Linked DNA regions of Homo sapiens: region 2 is reported to be linked to region 1. Evidence: microRNA targets listed by miRTarBase, many of them from high-throughput screens and not tested one by one. Region 1 holds a microRNA gene; the other region holds the end of a gene's coding sequence.
Evidence for each region. Region 1 holds the annotated microRNA hsa-miR-2277-5p (AGCGCGGGCUGAGCGCUGCCAGUC, at 2,986-3,009, shown strand). A microRNA usually pairs through its seed, bases 2 to 8, with sites in the 3' UTR of a target mRNA and lowers its output. Matches are read on the target gene's strand: a 7mer-m8 pairs with bases 2 to 8, a 7mer-A1 pairs with bases 2 to 7 and ends in A, and an 8mer does both.

Region 2: the mRNA of PAX2 is a reported target of hsa-miR-2277-5p. Seed matches in the 3' UTR shown: 7mer-m8 at 2,920-2,926.

The regions. Positions count from the first base shown.
Region 1 is chr5:93,619,395-93,623,756 of GRCh38, reverse strand. MIR2277 (microRNA 2277) reads left to right here and starts at 2,969; the gene lies at 2,969-3,061. ARB2A (ARB2 cotranscriptional regulator A) reads left to right here. Exons shown (of 11, transcript NM_032042.6): 11 at 2,628-4,362. The coding sequence ends at 2,770. LOC124901028 (a long non-coding RNA gene) reads right to left here and starts at 2,075. Exons shown (of 3, transcript XR_007058874.1): 1 at 1,814-2,075. RefSeq lists a silencer at 2,411-2,460.
Region 2 is chr10:100,826,500-100,830,866 of GRCh38, forward strand. It overlaps PAX2 (paired box 2), which reads left to right. Exons shown (of 10, transcript NM_000278.5): 9 at 510-596; 10 at 1,044-3,445. The coding sequence ends at 1,120. Among named protein-coding and RNA genes, the nearest start is that of PAX2, 83 kb to the left of the region's middle.

The DNA of each region.
Region 1 (4,362 bases):
CTTATTACCTTTACTCCTAGCAATTTCCCTTCGTCTGACAGAAGCACACATTCTCATTATTTATACTCTTAAATTACAAGAGTAAATGTTGAGAGCCAGTACAAGTATTCAGTTATCTCAGGGACTCTGGTCTTTTCAGTCCAGGACTAATCAAGCAGAGAGTCATCAAAAGCTAAAACTAAAAAGCTTTTGTAGTGATTTTATCACCAGGGAAATCTGTTCATCCTTCAGAAGGATTGTTACCCGTAAAGAAGAAATAAAGGAGTTAAAATTGCTTCAGACCGTTGACTCCTTAGGTCCCTCTAGATTCATAGATTGAATTGGTTTCAAGGGGTGGGAGGAATTATGAGGGGAATTCCCTGAGAAAGCTTACAAATTGATCATAGCCTTAGTAACACTAGTAGGTGTAAGTGTGATCACTATGGAGGAAATGCCAAATGTGGCTGTAAGCTTGGGAAATGGTTACGAAAAGAGACAATTAACACCTTTTTTTTTTTTTTTGGCTTATTGTATTTGGGGGTGGGTGTTGCCACGTAGTATGCATCTGAGAATGGTCTTTCAAAATGAATTACAATTGATTTTAAAATGTCCTACCATTATAAGTGCAACTGTGTAGTTATTACTGAAGTGAAACTAGGGTTGCAAACACTATAGAATAGAGACACACATTTGATAACCCTATCCAGAAACTGGTCCTCCTAGATCTACCCGCAAATATCATTTAAAGCAGGTATGTCTGAGCATATGTAGAACTGCTCAGTTAGGTTTGGAAAATATAAATGCCTCCAAATTCAAAAGAATCCTTTAAGATTGTCATTTGAATAAATCAGTAAAAATATAATAATATCTAGATGTTATGTATTATAACACCTATTGATGCAAGCAGGCATATATATATAATTTTCCCCCAAGAATTCTATGAAGAATTGTCAAAATCCACCTAGCACTTTAGGATTTAACAAGATAAACCTACACTCATCCCTCCTTCCTATTGAGTAACAATGAATTTTGCCCAAAATGAGTAAGCAAATAAAATGACCTCATTTTTAGTCTGAGTTGGGGGATATGACTTTAATACTGGGTCTTAGTTTCAAATTCAAGTTCATGAGGCCAGTCTGCAGAGGAAAGGAGGATAGAGAGAATCCTTGGGAGGGCACTGATAAAGAGAGAGGGGTTCTCTAGTAGGGCCAGCTCCCACAGCTAAGTCAGGCACAGACTGTAGCTTTCTGCTCTCTGGCCGACAGCAGCCATAGCATCCTTATTGTTGTAACTCCTAGATTGTGATACTGTCACAAAACTGTTGCTAGGCAACAAATGTGGTTACCAGGTCTCAGCGAATAGCTGAAGGGGAAAGCAAAGTGTTGCACCATTGTAGAGTAACCATAGCAATGACCTACTATTACAGACTAAAGAATTATCATTAACAATGTTAAAGTATCAGACTGAGGCCCTGAATCCGGAGACTTCCAAGCGGTATCTCTCTGCATAATTGAGTGATCTAGGAAGAGATTTCAACTGTTTAAAAGCTATTCACTCATTATTTCTGTGGAAGTCTGTAATTATTTTAATTTTTAATTTTAAAAAGTGCTCATTTATGAAGCCACTGGTAAAATGCTACATAAGCCATCACAGGGAGTCAAAAATAGCTAAATGTATTTCCTCATCTGTTCTTATGCTTGCATCCGTGTTATCCGCTGCCTGTGTTAAACTGAAGGTCGATTTGATTTGAAAACATGCTGTACATTAGTATTACATCGAAACCACAGAGAGAAGCCGTAGTAAAATAAAGTAACCCCATAAATTGACAACTAACCTGCATTTTCTAAGTTGAATTCCTCCTGATAAAATGGGAGGCCTAGATGCTCTTTTAGTAGTCACGGCTTTGAAACCTTTTTTTTAGCTGTTCTAAATTTGCCCCTTAAAATCTGTAAAAATGTCGCCCGCCAGGACACTTCAAGGCGTAATCCCTTTTGAATGCGGTCCTTCATTAAGCGTCCCGTATGATTTGGTCTCAGTGACCTAGCTGAGGTAATTGTGTCTAACAGCACAGCTTCCGGGAGACGCAAGAAAAATCATTCCCCCTTCCCCTCCACACCACCCCCTTGGGAAGCAAGGAAACAGGCGCTGTGCGATCCCGCACGCAGGGGAAACCAATCCCCGCGCGCGCCGAGTCTCGGGAGTGGGTGGTTTCCCGGAGGGAGAGGGAGTGGCCCTTCCCGCCCAGCGCTTCCATTGGCCCGGAGAGGCGGAGGCCTCGGGCGGCCAGCCGCGCCTCGGACGACCCCGGGACAGATCCGGGCCGCGTCCCCGCGTTGGGAGAGGGATGGGGACTGAGGCCGGAGACGCCTAGACGCCGCGGATAGCGAAGTCTGAGTTCCTCTGAGCCAGGGGGCAAGTGACCCCGCAGCCCTAGTTGTGCCCTGGGAGTCGGCTGGCCCGCGCCCGCGAGGGGGCGGGGGTCCTGGCTGAGGGGCGGGGCGCGGGCGGCTGAGGCGGGGCGCAGGCGGGAGGGGCGGGGAGGGGCGGGACCGGGTGGTCGGGAGCCGGGGCTCGGCCTGGCCCTCGCCGCCCTCACCGCGCCTGGCCCCGCGTGGCCACCTGGTAACCGAATGTGTTGTTCTTTGCAGGCACCGACCGTCACGAGCTAACTTCCTGGAAGAGCTTTCCGTCTATTTTCAAATTCTTTACCGAAGCCTCAGAGGCCAAGACCAGCTCCCTGAAGCCGGCTGTGACGCGCCGCTCCCACCGCATCAAGCACGAAGAGCTGTAAGAGGAGCGAGCGCGACGGGGGAGGCCGCCCTGGCGCACCCACCCGCACGCCTCCTCACTGCTTGTGTCGAGCGGACTCCCAGCCCCTCATTAGATTGTTTTCTTCCCAGAGCCCAGGGTCGTGATATATACATCTAAATAGCGTTTTGCATTATTTCTAGATGAGTGCAACTGTCAAAGCAATATGGGTTCACTGGTCGTGCTTCCTGCGGGCTGAGCGCGGGCTGAGCGCTGCCAGTCAGCGCTCACATTAAGGCTGACAGCGCCCTGCCTGGCTCGGCCGGCGAAGCTCTAATTGCCCTGAAGGAGACCGCGCGGGCGCTGCGGGTCCGGCGGCGTCGGCGCGGTCCTAGCGCCCGCCGTAGCGGAGCCGCTGCTGCTTCCCCCTCCTTAATCATGTCCATCTTTCCCCGCTCTCAACTGGAGCAAACTTCTATTCCAGACTTCAGATTTCCATTTTCACTAGGTTTTTCCCTGAGGGCATCTTATTACCCACCTCTTTTTTTTTTTTTTTAAGGAAGTTCCACACACACTCCAAAGCCGATTTCAAATTCAGAACCTGAATGCCATGATGTACCATGTAGTTTGGGGAATGCAAATTGTTCTCTCCCTGTTTTCATTTCGGGACCAGAAAAAAAAACAACTCTGCATAAAAATCTATAAAGTACTGAATCCGCATTACTGCTGAAAATCCTTTTGCCAGCTAATTGTGAGAGTTTACACAAGTCTCTGATTTCAGAAGAGACTGTTAAAACCAAAACAATGATGGGCAGCTCTTTTAAGTGTAGGTGTGAAGGTCCCATTTTCAATGGAATTTCCAACTGTTATCACTGGGATTGACTTTACTTTTTAAACACATAATGTGTACTGTGTGGCATTGTAATTTAGATATAACACACTTAAGTTTTGCTTTTTAAATCTCTCTGTGGAGAAAGGTTGTTGTTAATCCTTTCCAGAATGATCTATTCTGAGCTTTCCTGGAGTTAGGCCCTTCTAGGGAGAGAATTTTTTTATTGTCATCAGGAAACGAAACCTTTGTGCTCTGCAGCCTTTTTCTTCTGAAAGGCTAAGTGGGGCTAAAATTATCCTTTTAGTTTTCTGCTTTAACAAGAAGAGAAGGACTTGGTGTGAAAGAATTTCTTCTCTCAGTCCAATGGTATAATTTTTAGCACTCCGCTTCCTCTGTAGGGTTTAGCCCTACAGTTTGAACAATTATTTTAATCCAGCTAAGATGTGGCCAACACTGTGAAATACAGGAGATGTTAAGGTTTTGCTGACTTTTAGATTAAAATCTTAAAATTTCACATTATATTTTAATTACTTGAAAAGTTTAATTACCTAGTAAAGATTGTTTCTAATAGATGAGAACATAAATTTAATAGTTTTCATCCTTTTTTAAAGTGTGTGCAACAATTAATATGCCTGCCTTATTTGAGGACATGATAAAATGTACCCAAAATGACTTCGAACTGTCTAATGCCTCAGAAAAGTAACTTAAAATCAACCACTTCGTGCTTAAATGTTTTTATATTATGAACCGATTTCAACAAGTTTTAAAGCTGTTAATATCTCATTGCTGTGTTTGACATACAA
Region 2 (4,367 bases), not on the chromosome of region 1:
TGTCTCCCAAAAGAGCTCCCACCTCTTGTGTTGGCACTGCACATTGATGCCATTCTTAGGACTTTCTGGGAGAAAAATGTCCCGAAGGCCTTTCTTCGCCACCGCCCCCCACTCCCATTTCCACCCATTAGGGGCCATGCCTCCTAGAACCGGAGTGGCATCTATAAAGGCCCTGGCCCCCAGCGCGACAGGGTGGACGCGCCCCAATACAAACCCTTCGTGGGTGGCCGCGAGCGCCTCCGCTGGGAAGCCCTGGGCGGGCACCGGCCCACAGGTCCCGCCCGTGGGTGTGCGAGCGCGTCGGTGCCTCCCGCCTCCCCGGGCTCTCTCCACGCGGACGCGGTGATCGCCCCACCTCCGCCCGGCCCGCCCGCCACGGCCATTACCCTGCCCGCGACACCTGCGCCTGAGACCCGGCGGGAGGAGCGGGCGGAGAAGCCACCGGCCGGACTCGTGGGGTCCGCCCTGGCTTGCAGGCGTCTGATCCCCACTCCCCGACCCTCCCGCAGGGAGCGAGTTCTCCGGCAACCCGTACAGCCACCCCCAGTACACGGCCTACAACGAGGCTTGGAGATTCAGCAACCCCGCCTTACTAAGTGAGTACGCCACCTGGCTGGCCGGCGGCTCAGCGCGGCCGCGCGGCTTCTGGGCACGGTCCCACTCCCGGCGACCCGACCTCTGGGGACCCGGCCGGGCCAGGGGGACAGGCTTGTTAGTGCAGCACTGAGGCCCGGGGACCCCTCGAGGACGCCCGCACCTCCTGCCCTCCCGTGCCCTCCCTGGTCGCTCGAAGGCTCTGCGCCGCCCTCGCCCTCGGATCCCCTGGAGGGTGCGCAGCCGGGCGTCACCAGATCGGGTCCCTCTCATGCCCCGTGAACGCAACTATTCTCCGGGGCAACTGGCTCCACTGCCCAGCCAAGGTCTCCCAGTCCGGATCCCGCTGGACCCCAGCCAGGGGAGGTCTTTTCTGTGCTTTTCTTTCCTTTTTTGTTCTCCTGTTTGTCCTCTCACCCAGCCCATTCTTCTCCTGTGTTAACTTCCAGGTTCCCCTTATTATTATAGTGCCGCCCCCCGGGGCTCCGCCCCTGCCGCTGCTGCCGCTGCCTATGACCGCCACTAGTTACCGCGGGGACCACATCAAGCTTCAGGCCGACAGCTTCGGCCTCCACATCGTCCCCGTCTGACCCCACCCCGGAGGGAGGGAGGACCGACGCGACGCGATGCCTCCCGGCCACCGCCCCAGCCTCACCCCATCCCACGACCCCCGCAACCCTTCACATCACCCCCCTCGAAGGTCGGACAGGACGGGTGGAGCCGTGGGCGGGACCCTCAGGCCCGGGCCCGCCGCCCCCAGCCCCGCCTGCCGCCCCTCCCCGCCTGCCTGGACTGCGCGGCGCCGTGAGGGGGATTCGGCCCAGCTCGTCCCGGCCTCCACCAAGCCAGCCCCGAAGCCCGCCAGCCACCCTGCCGGACTCGGGCGCGACCTGCTGGCGCGCGCCGGATGTTTCTGTGACACACAATCAGCGCGGACCGCAGCGCGGCCCAGCCCCGGGCACCCGCCTCGGACGCTCGGGCGCCAGGAGGCTTCGCTGGAGGGGCTGGGCCAAGGAGATTAAGAAGAAAACGACTTTCTGCAGGAGGAAGAGCCCGCTGCCGAATCCCTGGGAAAAATTCTTTTCCCCCAGTGCCAGCCGGACTGCCCTCGCCTTCCGGGTGTGCCCTGTCCCAGAAGATGGAATGGGGGTGTGGGGGTCCGGCTCTAGGAACGGGCTTTGGGGGCGTCAGGTCTTTCCAAGGTTGGGACCCAAGGATCGGGGGGCCCAGCAGCCCGCACCGATCGAGCCGGACTCTCGGCTCTTCACTGCTCCTCCTGGCCTGCCTAGTTCCCCAGGGCCCGGCACCTCCTGCTGCGAGACCCGGCTCTCAGCCCTGCCTTGCCCCTACCTCAGCGTCTCTTCCACCTGCTGGCCTCCCAGTTTCCCCTCCTGCCAGTCCTTCGCCTGTCCCTTGACGCCCTGCATCCTCCTCCCTGACTCGCAGCCCCATCGGACGCTCTCCCGGGACCGCCGCAGGACCAGTTTCCATAGACTGCGGACTGGGGTCTTCCTCCAGCAGTTACTTGATGCCCCCTCCCCCGACACAGACTCTCAATCTGCCGGTGGTAAGAACCGGTTCTGAGCTGGCGTCTGAGCTGCTGCGGGGTGGAAGTGGGGGGCTGCCCACTCCACTCCTCCCATCCCCTCCCAGCCTCCTCCTCCGGCAGGAACTGAACAGAACCACAAAAAGTCTACATTTATTTAATATGATGGTCTTTGCAAAAAGGAACAAAACAACACAAAAGCCCACCAGGCTGCTGCTTTGTGGAAAGACGGTGTGTGTCGTGTGAAGGCGAAACCCGGTGTACATAACCCCTCCCCCTCCGCCCCGCCCCGCCCGGCCCCGTAGAGTCCCTGTCGCCCGCCGGCCCTGCCTGTAGATACGCCCCGCTGTCTGTGCTGTGAGAGTCGCCGCTCGCTGGGGGGGAAGGGGGGGACACAGCTACACGCCCATTAAAGCACAGCACGTCCTGGGGGAGGGGGGCATTTTTTATGTTACAAAAAAAAATTACGAAAGAAAAGAAATCTCTATGCAAAATGACGAACATGGTCCTGTGGACTCCTCTGGCCTGTTTTGTTGGCTCTTTCTCTGTAATTCCGTGTTTTCGCTTTTTCCTCCCTGCCCCTCTCTCCCTCTGCCCCTCTCTCCTCTCCGCTTCTCTCCCCCTCTGTCTCTGTCTCTCTCCGTCTCTGTCGCTCTTGTCTGTCTGTCTCTGCTCTTTCCTCGGCCTCTCTCCCCAGACCTGGCCCGGCCGCCCTGTCTCCGCAGGCTAGATCCGAGGTGGCAGCTCCAGCCCCCGGGCTCGCCCCCTCGCGGGCGTGCCCCGCGCGCCCCGGGCGGCCGAAGGCCGGGCCGCCCCGTCCCGCCCCGTAGTTGCTCTTTCGGTAGTGGCGATGCGCCCTGCATGTCTCCTCACCCGTGGATCGTGACGACTCGAAATAACAGAAACAAAGTCAATAAAGTGAAAATAAATAAAAATCCTTGAACAAATCCGAAAAGGCTTGGAGTCCTCGCCCAGATCTCTCTCCCCTGCGAGCCCTTTTTATTTGAGAAGGAAAAAGAGAAAAGAGAATCGTTTAAGGGAACCCGGCGCCCAGCCAGGCTCCAGTGGCCCGAACGGGGCGGCGAGGGCGGCGAGGGCGCCGAGGTCCGGCCCATCCCAGTCCTGTGGGGCTGGCCGGGCAGAGACCCCGGACCCAGGCCCAGGCCTAACCTGCTAAATGTCCCCGGACGGTTCTGGTCTCCTCGGCCACTTTCAGTGCGTCGGTTCGTTTTGATTCTTTTTCTTTTGTGCACATAAGAAATAAATAATAATAATAAATAAAGAATAAAATTTTGTATGTCACTCCCCATGGCTCCAAGTTTGTCTCTCCCTGTCTCTGAGATGGGCCTCCCCTCCATTGGTCGATCCCCAAAAGCCCCTTCAATGATCCTCCCAACTACACTCCCGCTGCCACCTCCAACTCCTTTGCCGAGACCCCCTTGGCGGCAGCTGAACCACGGCGAAGGCCGAGACTAGCCTGCCCTTTAGTAGCCACCCTCCCCCACGCACCCCGGCCCTGGGGACAGGAAGTTCTTACTCTCCGAAACTTCAGAATAACTCCTAGTTAGGCGCCTATACTAGGCCAACTCTGTGGTCCTACCAGTACACCCGCACCCAGATTTAGGGTGCTGGCTCTCAGAACCCGAAGTCTGAGGCCTTCTCCACGTGGGTGGAGGGGTGGTCGTCTGTCCTATCTCCTCCCTCCGTTCCCTATCCAGTGCAGTTGCGCGTGGGCGCAGCAGCAATTTTATCCCCGAAGTCTGCAATGAAACGCGAAGACCGCAGACGCTTGCCGCAAGTTTCCTCGCTCTGCGTTTACTTCTGGGCCCGAAGAATGCCCCGCAGAGGCCCTAGGAGCTGGTTCATGGGACTTCACGCGCCTCCAGTGTCTTGCGGAGCCCCAGCCCCAGCAAGCAGCGGCTGAAATTGGTGCGCCTTGTGCTGTGGTCTGGGTGTGTCCCGGAGAGGGCGCGCAGGCGCCTATGTCTGTCGCGGGGCGGTCGGCGGGTTCCTGCATAGGTATGGCTTTCTGTTCATCTATGTGTTCGTCTGTATGTCCCTGGATGGGTCTGGGGGTGTGGTAGTAGGAGAATTGTTTTTTTAGCCATCCTTGCTGTTCTTGTGTCCAGGTGTCCAGTGAAAGATCTGTATGTCTCCACCTCTCTGTTCTCTGTTTAGGAGAGGTTGCAGGGGGAAGGGGGATGTGGTGACTGTCCAGGATTGTTCT